2 separate regions of the Homo sapiens genome follow, and region 2 is linked to region 1. Evidence: fine-mapped expression QTL. Tissue or cell type: prefrontal cortex. Region 1 holds a variant in brackets; the other region holds the start of a gene. All regions are shown on one strand. Distances are from middle to middle.

Region 1 (8,106 bases):
GAACCATTGTAGGTGCAGAAATAAATAGTGCTTACAGATATACATTAACAAAAATTACATTGAGGAAAAAAAAAGTTGGAATTTCCAGCCCACCGACCTATTCTCCCCACTTCCCCACCTACTACCCCTCCACCCTGCCACACACATACCTGACCTCTGGGGAGGGGAAAGGGACTGGGGATTGAGTTAATCACCCATGGCCAATGATTCAATCAATCATGCCTAATGGAACATCCATAAAAACCCTAAATGAGGAGGTATGGAGAGTTTCTGACTTAGTGAACCTATCCATGTGCCAGGAGGGTGGTGCACCCCAACTCTAAAAGGACAGAAGCTCCTGTGCTTTGGACCCTTCCAGACTTCACCTTTTGCATCTCCTCATCCAGCTGTTCATTTATATCCTTTAAAATAACCTGGTAAACATAAGCATAGTGCTTCCCTGAGTTCTCTAAGCTATTAAAGTAAATTATAGAAACCAAAAGAAGGTTGTAGGAAGCCCTGATTTGTAGCCAAGTTAGACATAAGTGTGGGTAATATGTGGACCCACCACTTGCCGTTGATATCTGAAGTGGTAGATAGTCTTGCAGGACTGAGCTCTTAACCTATAGGGCCTGTGCTAACTCTGGGTAGTGGTAAAATTTAATTAAATTCTAGGACATCTGGTTGGTGGCTGCAAAATATTTAAGAATTACTTGGTGTGGAAAACCCACACATTGGGTGTCAGAAGTATTGTGAGTACAGGCCAGGCACAGTGGCTCACGCCTGTAATCCTAGCACTTTGGGAGGCCGACAGAAGAGGGCAGATCACCAGAGGTCAGGAGTTCGAGACCAGCCTGGCTAACATGGCAAAACCCTGTCTCTACTAAATTTCCAAAAATTAGCTGGGCATGGTGGCGGGCACCTGTAATCCCAGCTAGTTGGGAGGCTGAGGCAGGAGAATAGGTTGAACCCAGGAGACAGAGGTTGCAGTAAGCCGAGATCATGCCATTGCACTCCCATCTGGGCGACAGAGCGAGACACCGTCACAAAAAAAAAAAAAAAAAAAAAAAAAGAAGTATTGTGAGTAGAGAAATAATTTTCTTTTAACTTTGCTCTGCTTCTTCTTATATTCCGGCCAGGAGTGAACCTGTGCTCATCTGTGCTCCCGAAAGAATGGCTGCTTGACAAGCTCATCAACTGCTGTAAAAGGCATTTTTCCTGCTGTGTGTCTAAGAAAAGCACCAAAAAACCACCATGACTCTTTCCAAGGGAGAAATGACAGCTCCGTCTTTGACCTGAATAGCATGAAAACAAGGCAGTCTGATCCAGAGAGCTGCCCTGTCATGGAGAGAATAACCCTTGGGGACACCAAGTACCCAAACAGCACAGCACATGAATATAAACAATGAATACCCAATGGCTATAGGCCTCCTTTGGCTTACAGCCCCTCACAGCACTTTAAGAGGTGAAAATAGAACTGGAAGACGCCTTAGGGATCCCCGGGCACAACCCCCGCTTTTTGCAGATAAGGAAACTGAGGCTAGTTAACATGTCTATTAAAGAAGCTGGAGCAGGGTGAAAGCTAGAACCTTGATCTCAAACTCTCAGGCTTCTGTTTTATTTTCTCTATCACCCTGCAAGCCCAGATCCCAGAAGGGAACCCCATGGTTCCCATCACGCTGCTATAGACTGAATATTTATATCCCCTCAAAATTCATGTATTGAAACCTAATCCTCAATGTGATGGTATTTGGAGGTGAGGCCTTTGGGAAGTGATTAGGTCATAAGGGTGGAGCTCTCACCAGAGGGATTAGGGCACTTAGAAAAGAGACCGCAAGAGCTCCCTGGCCCTTTTCTGCCATGTTGAGGACACAGTGAGAAGATAGACATCTATGAACCAGGAAGCAGGCCCTCACCAGACACTGAACCTGCCAGTTTCTTGATCTTAGAATTCCCAGCCTCCAGAACTTGTGAGAAATAAATTTCTGCTGTTTACAAACTACCCAATCTGTTTTTGATATAACAACACAAATGGACTAAGACACACACTCTAATCTCCTCATGAGAAACTGGGCTTTTACCATAGGGGAGCTGAAGAGAAAAAAACATTGTTTTTTATTTTCTACTGCTAATTTGAAAGGATACTCATATTTATCAGTGCCTCATGGGGGCAGTCCAGTCTGTAAGTCCCAGAGGGAGATATGGAGATGAAAAAGGGTCAAATACCTGGGCCTTCCTGAAGCACAAATCATTCTGTGAAGGCAAACAATTTAGTAGTTATACAGTCTGATTTCCCAGAGCAAGCAATGCTCATCCTACCATTGCTTATGTTTATGTACAATTTAAGAGGACCAAATGGCTTCGTCGCACTGTGGAGTGTCAATGCTGGTGTCATTAACATACAATTATACATGCGTGGAGCAGATCATCGAGTACCTGTCCTCTTAATAAATCACATCATGAAAAGCTATGGTTTAGATGTCACTTTCATTTCATAAAATGATTCACCACAGTATGTCTTAAAAGCTAGTTTTGCTCATGCATTTAGTCTACAATTCCACTGATAGAGATGTGATTGCCTCGCAACTTGTCAGAAACACATCCTCTGAATAAAACATGGTACTCCTCCCAGCCACAGAATGCCAACCTTGATCCAGATCTATTTTGGGCGCTTGGCTCCTAGAAATGAATGAAAGTCGTTGTTGAGGTGGAATTTTGCTTCAGGTCCTGTGGGACTTGATGAGGACATTCTTCCCAGCACAAGAAGCTGACCAGGGACAGGGTGCCACAGCTGAGTGTGTTACTGAGGATAAACATATTTAAACCGCTGTTTGTGGACAGTTCCCCTCCTCCTTTACTGTCAACATATATCATAAAATAAATCCTTTCATTTCATCTTAGGAAGGCAAGATATTCAGGCTAGTGATGAAAGAACAGTAAGGAGAGACTTGATAGCCCAGACCAGTAGCAGCTAAACTAACCTTGAAAGCAGAAGAAAAAAAAAAGAGAGCCACTAAGCCACCGAGTGAGAATGGGTGGCAGGAAGAGTTAGAGAGATCCTGCCCATTCGCATTTCCTTCTCTTCACTCTCTCTTCAGCCTGTCTCTTGACAAGAGTGTCCCGGTTCACCCATCGCAAATCTCCACTTACCATGACAGGCATGAGGATGGAATGTCCTATCTCGAGACACCTACAGGCTAACTGAGGAATAGAAATCAGGGAGGGAAGCAGCTCCTAGGTCTTACAGTTTAATGATTACACCGCCGTTTTCAGCCCCTGACTTCATTAAATTCAGGGTAAGGACGACCCACACGACGTCCTTCTCGTGCCAGGTACTTGGCAAGTCAGAACCAGTCGCCGCTGTGTCCTCCCGGCAAGATGAGCGCAGGTTTCAGAAGCCCCAGCTCTGGAAGTTTGCTGTGCCAGGCTCCTCGGAGCAGCACCACTGCCCCAGACGAACACGCACACACACGCACTCACACACACACACACGCACACGCACGCACACACACACACACGCACGGCTCATTGGACACTTGCCCTGCCACCCCCGAAAGCACAGCGCCGAGGAAAGGCCGGTTCCGGCCGCGAAGGCAGCAGGTGTCCCCTGACCCTTTCCCTCCGCCCTCCAACCCCAGCCCCATCCCTAGCTGAGTTCCTATGGACGCCCCCCAAACTCGCAGTTCTCGGGCAGAATTGCGACCAAGAAATAAAAGACAAAATGAGCAGACTTACCTAACTCGTCTGGGCTGTAGGATGCGGGCGAGGCTTCCACAAACTCACTGTCTGGGGGAGAAGAAAAGCAGAAAACAACTCGAATCGCTACCATTCAGGACGAACCCGCACAAGCACCAGCTCAAGCGCAGGTCCCCGGGAAAAGCGCGGGCTTCTCTCTCCCAGCGCTCAGAATCCCTGAGCCGGAGGCCCCGCGGGATTCAGACCGCCAGATCCCCAGGGAGTGACAAATCGCCGCAGAAACTTGGGGGACAACTCGGCCCTGGCACCGCGCGGCTTCCAGGCGCGGTCAGGCGCGCGCCAACTTTCCCCGCGTGCCACCCCGCGGCTCCCCCGGCCGGGCGCTGGGCCGCGGCCGCATCCTCTGCCCTCAGCCCGCGGGGCGCATTGCTCTGTCTGCCGGGCCTGGCGCCGACGCCCCAGCGCCGAGGAGCCGCGAAGTTTTCCCGCGGTCCCGGGGGCCCGAGGGCGCGCGGCGGCGGCGGCGAGCACCCCTCGCCCACCCAGGCGCCCCGCGCATCCCCGCTCGTTGCTAGGCGACCGTGGCCGTCACGCTCCGCAGAGGCGCGCGCGGCCTCCCAACTCCCGGCTGGCGGAATCCTCCCTAGTCCCCGCCCCGTTTGCCCATTTTCCAAAAAATCAGAGCATAACCCGTTCTAACCCGATTCCCTGCTCTGTTATGTTATGTCTGCCCTCCTCTGATGCTTGGGAAATCGTTTGTTCTGTGGGCTTCTCCT[G/A]AGGAGATGGACGATTTTCAGAGCTTGCAGAAAGGTAGGAGGAGACCCAAATGCCCCCCAATCCCCTCCTTTTGGAACCAGAATTCCAACTCCAGTCCAACATTATTTCCTACTCTTCAAGAGATCACCTGGCTCAAGTGGGCAAAGTAATATGAGCTGCATTGCACAGGTTGGGAAACCGAGGCTGAGAAGTTGTTAATTTATGCGTGACATCATTATGGTAGGGGTATGTGAGGGAGAAGTGGGGGAGGAGAGAAGAGCAGTGCTCCTTCTACTCTATAAAAGATTGACTGCTTTCAAATACAGAATGTAGAAGCAATGGTTATGCTCTGAGAACTGTAAATTCTAAAATAATTAATGTAACACTGTGAGAACCTCCCCCTCTGAGTCAGTAGCCTGATAACTTGGACAGATGTGTTATGTATCTCCCCCCAGCCCCCAGGACTGACTGTGACTGCTCTGCATTAAGGGGGCGAGGGTGCTGGACTTGGGGTGTGCTCCAGAGAGAGCCCCGCAGCTGATGGCCCATAACAGGGTCAGTGGGAAGGAAGGAACAAGTATGGAAATGGTTGTCCTTTCTCCATCCTTGGAGGACTATTGGAGGGTCAACAGTCTGGGCAGCCTCCTGGGGGCCTTCTATTGTCTCAAAGTGATCAGAGCACCAGCTGCAGCAGCCTAAGGGCCCCGATCTGAGCCAATGTGCTCTCATCCTGTAAACACTCAGCCATCTCTGGCTTTTCCACTGTCAGTTTTTGGTTTACAAATCACCATGAAGGACAGAAAGCCCCTTCGGCCAGCATTGCTTAGGGAGCCCAGGGAAGCAGGGGTGGGGCTGTCCTCCCCAAGCAAGGCAGCATTCTTGAGCTGCTGAGCCTATCTCTCCAACCTCTTCTTTTTCCTGCTTCTTATAATCTGAGCTCCCAAATCCAGGAATTAAATATGTTTGGGTGAGGGTTTGCACTCATCACTCCATCCCCTCCCAACTCCTAGAATCCTCCCATTTGTCCTCTGGAACTCATGGTTCATCGCTAGCAAAATCTATATATCCTCAGCCTCCTCTCTGAATGTTTCTTTCAGTGTTGTGCTCTGACCCATACCTGGCTTTCCTTGAAAATAACAGGCTGCATTACTTGCCTCCTCTACTTATTTCAGCCATCTATGGATCCTCTGGTTGTTCTACCTCATTTCTTGAAGATAATGGCATCTGATTCACTGTCACTTTTCCCAGTATCATTCCTGTGATTATTCTTATTTTTCTCCATCTACATAGTCACACTCTGATCTCTCAACTCTTCTGCATCTTATCCCTTTCTTGACCTGCTCCAACCACACCAGCCCCCTGCTGTCATAGCGACACCATGCATAATATCAAGGTGAAGTAATCCACTCTCCTACCTTTCCAGCTTATCCCCTCTGTTATTTTAATCCAATGTGTCCTTGACCCCACCAGCATCTATAATTTACTTATCCATGACCTTTTCTCTGCCCCTCACTCTCCTCATGACCCTCCTTCCTTCCTTATGGACTTTAGTTTCCAGTTTCATTATTATTTCTCTCTTACTTACACCTTCAAATCCATGTTCTGCTCTCTTTCCATGCTATTTACCTGGTGAAAACACAACCCTAGTAAAATATAACTCTCCACCTTCTTTCCATCTACACCCAGCTAAACATGATTGAAGAAGCACAAAATTGGCTGGGCATGGTGGCTCACATCTATATTTCCAGCACTCTGGGAGGCTGAGGTGGGTGGATCACCTGAGGTCCTGAATTTGAGACCAGCCTGGCCAACATGGTGAAAACCCATCTCTAGTAAAAATACAAAAATTAGCCAAGTGTGGTGGCACATGTCTGTAATCCCAGCTACTCAGGAGGCTGAGGCAGGAGAATCGCTTGATACCAGGAGGTGGAGGTTGCAGTGAGCAGAGATCACGCCATTGCAGTCCAGCCTGGGTGACAGAGCAAGACTCCGTCTCAAAAAAAAAAAAAAAAGCACAAAATTATGCTCTCTGGTCTTATTTTCGATTCATGTCCACTAAAATCAAATGGAGCTAGTGCAGCCCAGCAATCACTCTGCATTTGCCTGTTTATTTACTCTCCCGCTCTCTTGTTGCTATGGATGAATCATCTAAGGCCATTATGGCCTCCTGTATGGATCAGATCCCATTTATGTGGCTTTTCCCTCTTCCCACCTGGATTAATATTTTCTTCTGTCCTTGATCACTCCTGTCAGTATACAGACATACTACTATGATCCTGTCTTTTTAAAAATCCTTTCTTGACTCTATGTATCTCCAGCCATTACTCCAATTCTCATCTCCCCTTTACAACAAAATTCATTAAAATAATTGTCTACACTGATAGCACCCATTCTCCATTTTGCTCTTACAAGCAGCCTAAATAGGTTTCTACCTCACTCTGCCAGAGTAGCTCTTGTCAAGGTCAAGAATGGCTTTGCCATTGCCAATTCCAATTATCAGTCCTAGATCCTAACAGCAGGTTTTGACCTGCTGATCTTATGAGTGGATGGGCTCAGATGGGCTGTCTGCAGAATCAGTCTCCTCTGGTTTCCCATAGAATCAAGCAAATAACATTTGTGTCTCAAGAGAGGTGACCTATAGAAGGCCTTGGGATCAGCCAGACCTGGGTTCTAATACCTGTTCCAATACTAGCTAGTAACTTAATTTCTTTCAGCCTTAGCTTTGTGTAAACATGGAGATAATAATCATACCTAGCATACCAATGTGGTGAGAGTGCAATAAACTAATGCACTTGGAGCCCCTAGGAGAGAGAGTGTCACACTGTAAAAGTCAAATAAACATTAGTTATTATTGGATGCCATGCTCCTTTACAGCTGACACAAATGGACTCTTTTTATCCCTTAACAATTTTGAGTTACTAAAAGAAGATATTAACCACAGAGTATGTTTACATTAGAGGAATGTTCGTTGTCTCCAACTTTTAGTTTGCATTCCAAGAGTTGGCTTGAAGGCTGGTTACTTGGAGCTGGCAACAGGTTTACCCCTATGAAGAGCGTTGCCAGTGCTCCACAGGGTGATTAGGTTCTGGAGCCTGCCAAACTGTTCTCACAATGGACTTGCCTTCAATTTGTTCATATAAATGGATGACTTGTAAACTAGGAACTATCCTTACAACATTTTAGTTATTTGAATTTCCTAATCAACTGAGGGTTAATGAGAAAACATTTCTCTTGTTTCAGTATTTGCTGTTGAAAATTCTCTAAAGTCAATGATTCCAATTTTCTATCTTAGGAAGTAGAATAGAGCCAACAATAATGTTTCATATTAATTAAACAAACATTTATTGGGAATTTACCATGCTTCCAGCGCTGTGCAAGGCACTGCAGACACAGAGATGATCAGTGCCCTTCTAATAAGGGATTCCATGACAGACCTTATTGAATCTCAGGGCAATGTCCAAAGTGCCTACCCACACTTGACTTTTATAGGTCTCTTATAAAGAAATGGTTCTGCTGGAGTGTCACTGAGTTATAATAAACAGTGCACAAGTTTACGGATTTGCATCTCAGCTCTGTGAATATTGGGTGGCAGGCATTTTCAGTTTCCTAACAATAATACATACCTCACTGGATTGTTAGGAGCAGCGAAATAGGTAAGGTATGAGACAGACCAGG
Region 2 (8,106 bases), 100 kb after region 1:
TTAAAATTGGTGAGATGTTCCTTGGGCTGGTCGGTCTGAGGACCTGAGGTCGTAGGTGGATCTTTCCCATGGAGCAAAGAACAGGAGGACAGGGGATTGATCTCCCAAGGGAGGTCCCCCAATCCGAGTCACAGCACCAAATTTCATGTGCGTCTGTGTAAAGAGACCACCAAACAGGCTTTGTGTGAGCAATAAAGCTTTTAATCACCTGGGTGCACGCGGGCTGAGTCCGAAAAGAGAGTCAGCAAAGGCAGATAGGGGTGGGGCCGTTTTATAAGATTTGGGTAGGTAAAGGAAAATTACAGTCAAAGGGGGTTGTTCTCTGGCGGGCAGGAGTGGGGGTCACAAGGTACTCAGTGGGGGAGCTTTTGAGCCAGGATGAGCCAGGAGAAGGAATTTCACAAGACAATGTCATCAGTTAAGGCAGGAACAGGCCATTTTCACTTTTTTTGTGGTGGAATGTCATCAGTTAAGGCAGGAACCCACCATCTGGATGTGTACGTGCAGGTCACAGGGGACATGATGGCTCAGCTTGGGCTCAGAGGCCTGACAAAGACAACTGCTTTTCTTCCAGGGCTGATGAGAGACCCAAAGGATAAATAGAGCTTAAAGCAAGTTGGAAGCCGTAGACCATTATGCAGATGCCATATATTATTACTTCTTTACAGTTGGGTTGGTTACTAGAGGACTCACCAGCCCCAGCACCCAGATCTCATGCCTCCTAGCCTTCATGGTTTCCAGAGACATTCTGAATAGCCACGGGCCGGCTGGTGCTGACAACTTGGTGTATTCTGGCCAATGGGGGAGGGAGCTGAACGAAGGGATGTGGGCAGGGAGCCATAGTTCTTCCTGCCAAAGCAGAATCTTTGCCTAATTTCCCCATGACAGTCCTACGTCCATGAAGAACTGAGGAGAATGACATCAGTAAGTCTTACACTCGAGTTTTCTGTCAGAGCAGGTGCAACTTCAAAACTGCTTCCGCCCTCAGGACCAGGCATTTCCTAAACACCCCTCCTCCTTCACTTCTCTTCTCACTGCTGCCTGTGGCTGAGGTATTCTTAATGACAAGCCATCGAGTCCATGATAATCAGCTGAGGAGTGATTCTCATTAGATTTCAGGGAAGGAAAAGGCTCAGGCCATGACTGAAGGATGGAAAATAAGAAGGAATATAGCTAACCTGGCCTCTTCACCTGACTCTACTTAGAGTCCATCTTGACAAGCAGATTGGAGTCATGACAGTTCAGACCTGAAATGCTGGTTTTTATTTAAAGGAGACAGGTGGGAAGAGGGGGATGGGAATAACAACACAGCCATTTGCTGCATAACTAATTACCAAAAATTAACAGCTTAAAACTTAAAACAGCTCCCATAGACCAGGAGTCCAGGTTCAGTGTCTCGCAGACTATAATCAGGGAGGGTCTAGCGTCCCATCTGAGGCTCAGAGGGGCAGGGGCGGGGCGGGGGGTGGTGGTGGTGGTGATGGTGGTGGTGGTCTTCCAAGCACACGTGGTTGTTGTCAGAATTGATTTCCTTGCAGCTGTAGAACTGAAGCATCTTGCCTCTTCAAGGCTAACAGGAAAGAGTGAGTCTCTGACTCTAGGCTTCTTACTTGACATTCTCCAGGAACTCACCTGATTAGGTCAGGCCCACCCAGGATTATCTCCCTTTTCATTAACTTCACCTCAACTGCAGGATTTCTTCACCTTTACTATATTCTACTTTTCAGAAGCAAGTTATACATCCCTCCCACAACTGAAGGGGAGAGGATGACACAAAGATGTGGATACCAGGCAAAGAAATCATAGAGGCCATTTAAAAATTCTACCTACTACATCCTCCGTTTGCTGAGCTCCATGTGTGTGTTGCAGGACTTTCTCCTTAGTTCAGCTAAAGACGGGGTCCTTGTCAAACATCCATGAAATATTAGGCTTGCAGACACTTTGAAGGGTGAGAAAAATGGTATTTATTGGGCGAAAAGGGAAAAAAAAAAAGGAAAAACAGAGACTCTCCGGAAAGCCAGAGTCCTGCTACTGCACTTCCTGCCTGGCGAACTGAATCCCAGGTTCCACCCAGGAAGAGGGCGGCAGGCTCCTCCCCACTGCAAACCACGCGAACCTCCCAAGGCTCCACCCCAGCGTGCATTCCTCCCAGTGTGCAGGTCAGGGAGGCTCTGCCAGGGAGCACTTCCTACCTGGCTGTCTCATGTGGGGTGTGTGTTTGTGTGTGTAACAGAAATCAACTTGTTCCGACTCACCTTAGCAAAATCAGGGGGATTGGTTTTAAGGAAACGATGTCTTGTGGACCCAGGATACAAATGCAGCCTGACCTGTGGAAGGACAGGAGTTAGGGTGAGGAAAGCCATAGGGAAACTTGGATCCCTATGGCTTCATCATTCTCTCTCTCTCTGTGAACCAACTTTATCTGCTGTCCAATTTGTGCTTTACAGTTCCAGCCATGGTTCCAACAACCATGCTATCTCATCCCATTGTCTCTGGTAGAATCAGTATCTCTCTCTTTCTCTCCTCCATTCCCAGTTCTAAATTCTTAGAGAAGGAATCTTGGGTGGGCTGCTCATCTGTATTGTAGTTGTCTGTGGCCAGAGAGGACAGGATGCATGTTACAAGCATGGCTGCTGGGAATCCACCCATGGTGATCATGTAGCGAAGGGAGGATGGGGTCAGTTCCAGGAGAAAGAGGCTGAGGTCCCAAGAGATGTCCACTGCATGGTGTCAGGCTTTGTCATTAGTGGCCAGTATGTGCATATGCCACATCATCTGGTGCACAACTGAGCAGCAAGGCCTTTTGCTGGTGGAGGGGGCGGAATGAGACATGTTTAACAGTGTTCCACAGTTAGTACTATGTGCTGCATAAACCAGGGACTTGTTTCCAGCCGGAAGTGATGCTTCCTGTCAAAATCAGTTTACAGCTATGTTCCCATCACCCCAGCACTTAGAAGAAGGCTGATCCCACAGAAAGAATTCAGCAGCTGCAGAGAATGAGGATATAGGCACACAGGGCCCAATTTAGAGACACAGCCCTGCAGCATCTCATAAACCTTTTTTAGAAATGGCTGAGAAAGAGCTGCTTTGAGCAAGAAGTGAAAGTAAAGAAGGATTGGGTAATCAAAAGCCCGGAAGAAGGAAGGGAATCTTCCAGCACAGAGTGTAATGCTCATGTTTTGCTAAGAAGAAAGTGAGACACACAAAAGGCTCCAGACAGGGCGAGTTATTAAACCTCAGACATGCTGCTTAAGAGCTCTTACCAATTCTTACTTATGAGGAACTGGCTTCCAGATCTCTCGTGTGTCTTATAGTTGTTTTATACAAGTGTGCACAGGGAGGTATAAACTGGATGTGATTCTCACCCCAGGATGTGGGTGCTTACCAACCAGTCCTTCTGCAGTCTTCACATAGTTCAAAGCCAAAGGATCATTTCCAGCGCTGACATATTTGTGGAATCTTCAAGGGAAAGGAAAAGGCTAACCCAAGGCAAAGTGTTATTTGCTCACATCACTTAAGGAATTTTTTCAAAATTCTAGAGATTAACGGGTAAGTCTATAAAATTCAAAAGGAACTACTATATTAAAGTAGGGTTGTCATCACTTCTCCTTGCAGTTATTGTCTCCCTGTCCCCTGGCTCCAAGTGCATTGCATCATGAAAGGAAACTGTCACTCTTTTCAGCATTGGCTGTTCTGACTTGGTATTTTACTGCATGGTGATCTGATGCTGTTGGGGAGACAGGCATGTGGAGCATTTTAAGCCACGAAGGAAGGTATGTGAACTAAATCCACAACTCACCTCTTAGGAACAACTGCCTGAGGATAGGGTTCTTTCAGAAAACATAAGCTCTGGTGACAAATTCACTCAACTGATTGCTGCACCTTGTTTTAGAAAATGCTTCTAGAGGTAGCAAAATAATTCACATGAGGATTTATGAAGATGTACTTCATCCTTGATTTGGGAAGAGGTGAGAGAGACGATGTCCACCTACCACGGTTCACCCATGTGAACTTTCTTGTTACTCCTACTGTGTCATCCAGTCACTGAGCAAAGTCCTGGGCACACTTCATTAAACACAGTACCTGCTTTTGAAGAATTCACAGTCTCACAGGAGAGAAGTATGTGTAAACTGATGGTTAAAATACATCACAGTGTTAGGTGTTGCAGAGGGGAATGGGCAAAGCATTATTAGATCATAGAAGGAATGACTAGGCATGCAGCTCCTTCCAGACTCAGCTTGGGAATCCTCCCAGTCCGACGGCTGTGCTCTACCACTCTCTGCTCACTTTCCACATGACATTGGTACTTTGTGCTCCTGTGTCTCTCTCCCCAACAAGGCTTCAAGCCAGGGTTTCTCAGCTTTGGCATTATTGACATTTTGGGCCAAATTTTTGATGGTAGGGAGGGGGAGCCGTCTTGTGCGTTGTAGAATGCTTAGCATCATCTCTGCCCTCTACCCAGGATCGCTGCCCTCTGTCTGCCAGTAATACACACACACACATACACACATATGACACAGACACACACAACACACACATGAACACAGACACACACATACCCCCCACACTATTAATGGCAATACAAAGTCTCTGCCAAATGTCCCCTAGGCAGCAAAATCGCCCCAGTTGAGAGTCCCTGCTTTAAGCTGTTCCAGGGCAGCAATGACATTTTCTTCATCTCTGAATCCCTGGTGCCCAGGACATTTCTGTCACTGCGAACCAAACAGAATATGGCTTGGAGGGATGAGGGAAGCCTTAAATAAGAGAACTATCTGATTCGAAGTATAAAGAGGAATCATCTAGGTCAGCACTCTCCTATAGAACTTTCTGTGATGATGGAAATGTTCTATGTCTTCACTTTCCAATACAGTGGCTGCTACGTGTGGCCTTTGAGTACTTGAAATGTATGACTGAGGAACTGGATTGATTTCAATTACTTTAAATGTAGCCTTCAAAGGCCACATGTGATTAGAGCCTCCATCTTAGATAGCACAGCTCAAGCACTGAGTGGCCTGGCCCAGGGTAAGCACTACTCATCAAATGCAAGTTTGGGTTTCAATAGATTCCCAGATGATTCAAATATATATTCATACTTCCAGTTTTTCTGACCATTATCCAAGCGTAAAGCAATATATTTTGGAATAAATTGAATATTCCCATGCTTCCTTCTAAAGAGATAATAAAAGAGGCTGATCCCACCTATTGTAAAGCAACCAGGGATGCCATTATTGAGGGGCTTGAAGATAGATGCTGATGAAATTCTTAGAATCACCCCATTTATTTAAAAGCAGCCCATCTGACTATCTAAGCTTCCATGCATTTATCTAAATAATGGATATTGAGGGCCTACCAGATGCTATTGTTCGATGAGATCACAAAGATATGCAAAACAGCCAGAGAGAAAAATGTAGAAAAAACTATGCTGCACTGTTAGAAGGGCAGGAATGGAGTTGTGTGTGTGGTACAGGGAGGATACAGGGAAGGGAGATTCTAAGTGCCTGAGATGGACAGAGAAGTTTTGACAGCAGAGCTGACACTGAGCTGAGCTTTAAGTGAGAATTAGCTGAGTCAGTTTCCTAAACTTATCTGAACAGCCACCAGACACAAACACACACAAAAATCACCTAGGGACTTGTTAAAAAATAAATTCTCAAGTTTCTTCCCTGGAAATTCTTAGTATAGAACTCAGTTTTAGCAAGCATCCCGGGCAAATATAGGAAGTGAGTGTTAGGAGAATGGGGCCCATAATTACCATGTGCTGATAGAAACGGTGCCAAGGTCTTGATAATGTTTCTGATAGCTAAAACTATCAGTATATCACATTTGACTTATATTAGAAGGCAGGAATTTGAAAAATAAAAGAATGAAAGAGAAAGGAAAGCTACCCATACTTCCACCATGTAGACCTAATCATTGATATTTTTGATAAATATTCTGCTTGTCTTTTTGTGTACACTCACACACACTCACACGAAACTGGAAGAATACTATACCTATTCCGTTTTTTACATACTTTTTTATCTTACAATAATTTTAGATTTAAAGAAAAGTTGCCAAGATAGGACAAAGTGTTCACATATACCCTACACCCAGTTTTCCCTATTATTGTCTTATATTAGTACACTGCCTTTGTAACAGTTAATGTACTAATATTTATATGTTACTGTTATCAAAAATCCATACCTCATTCAGATTTCCTTAATTATTATTCATTGCTCTTTTTCTATTCCAAGATCGGATCCAAGATATATTATATTTAATTACCATGTCTCCTTAGGCCTATCTTGGCTGTGACAGTTTCTCAGTCTTTTCTTGTCTTTCTTGACCTCGACAAGTGTTTTGTAGACTTTCCTTAAACGGATATTTTTCTGATATTTTTCTCATGGTTAGATTGGAGTTGTCTGCTTTTGTTTTAATTATAATTTTAAGTTTGGTAAACTTTTAAATTACAGAAAAAAAAAATAAGACAAAGATGCAAATATCATCAACCCAGAATTGACAGTTGTTATCATTTTTGTATTTGTTTCATTTTTTAAGAAAACTAATAGAATTATAGTCAAATTCCCTTTATTGAGCATCCTTACCTATAATTCACAACCCTCCCTGCCTCATAGATGTAACCACTGTCATGAATTTAGTGTGCAATCTTCCATTTCCACTTTTTCCTTTTATATGTATGTACACACACGCCTATAAAACCAGGGAAATATGTGGTATTTACATGTATGTTAATTCTTGTCTATGAATGACATTGTAAGCACATCAGACCAACTGGTTCAACTTTTATGTGACAAAGTTGTGAGTTGTTTTTCAGTTGCCATGGACCCCCAGGTTAAAGGGCACATAATCTGAGCATGCCCAGATGAACCAAATGTGCAACCACAAGGGGAACCTAAGTGCTGGGATGAAGGAGCAGGACTGAATTAAGAAGCAGCAGACACAGCATGGCAGGATCCAGCCAGAGCATGCGTCCTGGCCTCACCTCACTGCCAGATCCAATCAGATCATGCCTTATTACCCATTTTAAAATCTGACCCACCCCCAGCTCAGGGAGACATTTGAGCATTTCCTCCTCTCATGTGGCCAGTGGACTTGCGATTAACCTTTCTCACAGCAAAAACCCAGTGCTTCGGTGTTGGCTTTCCACTGCACATGGGCAAACAGACCCCATTTGGTTTCAGTGACAGCATGATGTACCCATCATTCTTTAACTTGATTTTTTTTCACTTAACCTTTTTTTTTTTTTGATAACTATTCATGTAGATCTACATAGTCTGAGCCAGTTAATTTCTTTTCATTGCTATATGGTATTCTGTAGTATGCCTACAGTATAGTTTATCCATTTTCTTCTTATAGACAGGTGCAAGAAATTCTCTGAAGTATAAACCTCAAGGTAGAATTGCTGGTTTGTAGGATATGGGCTTCCAGATATGATTGAACCGGTTCATGCTCCTAGCAGCAATGTTTAAGAGTTTGTTTCTCTGCATTCTCAACAACAGTTATTACTGACAGATAGTTTAATTTTTTCCGAATGTATAAGAGTGAAATTAAATCTCATTGGTGTTTTATTTTTAATTTTCCTTATTACTACTGGTGAAGTTGAGTATCATCTTAGATATTTGTTAGTGAATTGCTCTTGGGCCCTTTTTTCTACTGGGTGTTTTTGTCTGTTTTTCTTACTAACTTAAACTTTTTTTGTTTTTGCATATTTGGGTTAATCATCCTTTTCTTGTTGTGTATGTTACACATATACTGTTTTAGCCTACAGTTTGTCTTTTAGCATTACTACTGTCTCATTTGTCATTCAGAAGTTTACATTTTGACAAAGTCATCAGTCTTTTCCTGTATAATTTATACTTTTTCTATATTGCTTAAGAAATTTTCCCCTACTTTAATATCTTAAAGATATTCCCTATATTTTCTTCTAGTTGTTGCAATTCTTTTTCATGTTTTCTTTAAGCTACATGAAGTCTCTTTTTGTTTTTCATGTGAGCTAGGAGTCTAATTTTCTTTCTATATGAAACCTAGCTATCCCAGTATCTTTTATTAAGTAGTTCATCCTTTCAACTGTAATGCCAATTCTACTAAATGACAGATTCATATATG

Alleles and levels. Alleles are on the strand shown, and positions count from the first base shown. SD is a standard deviation of normalised expression in the study named.
For the expression in prefrontal cortex of the gene that starts at base 4,110 in region 2, allele A in region 1 goes with a lower level than allele G (moderate effect, 0.72 SD a copy in CommonMind).

The links. PIP is the estimated chance that this variant, and not a neighbour inherited with it, causes the effect.
Region 2: it holds the start of LINC02700, and the variant in region 1 is fine-mapped to the expression of LINC02700 in prefrontal cortex (CommonMind, PIP 0.95).

Annotation. Positions count from the first base shown.
Region 1 is chr11:94,736,597-94,744,702 of GRCh38, reverse strand. PIWIL4-AS1 (PIWIL4 antisense RNA 1) reads left to right here and starts at 4,348. Exons shown (of 5, transcript NR_135093.1): 1 at 4,348-4,485. It also overlaps a transcript of AMOTL1 not described here. The variant G/A (reference allele first, on the strand shown) is at 4,452.
Region 2 is chr11:94,634,047-94,642,152 of GRCh38, reverse strand. It overlaps LINC02700 (long intergenic non-protein coding RNA 2700), which reads right to left and starts at 4,110. Exons shown (of 6, transcript NR_187352.1): 1 at 3,800-4,110. The region is part of intron 4 of PIWIL4-AS1 (PIWIL4 antisense RNA 1); the gene reads left to right. RefSeq lists an enhancer at 1,639-2,138 and a silencer at 8,083-8,106.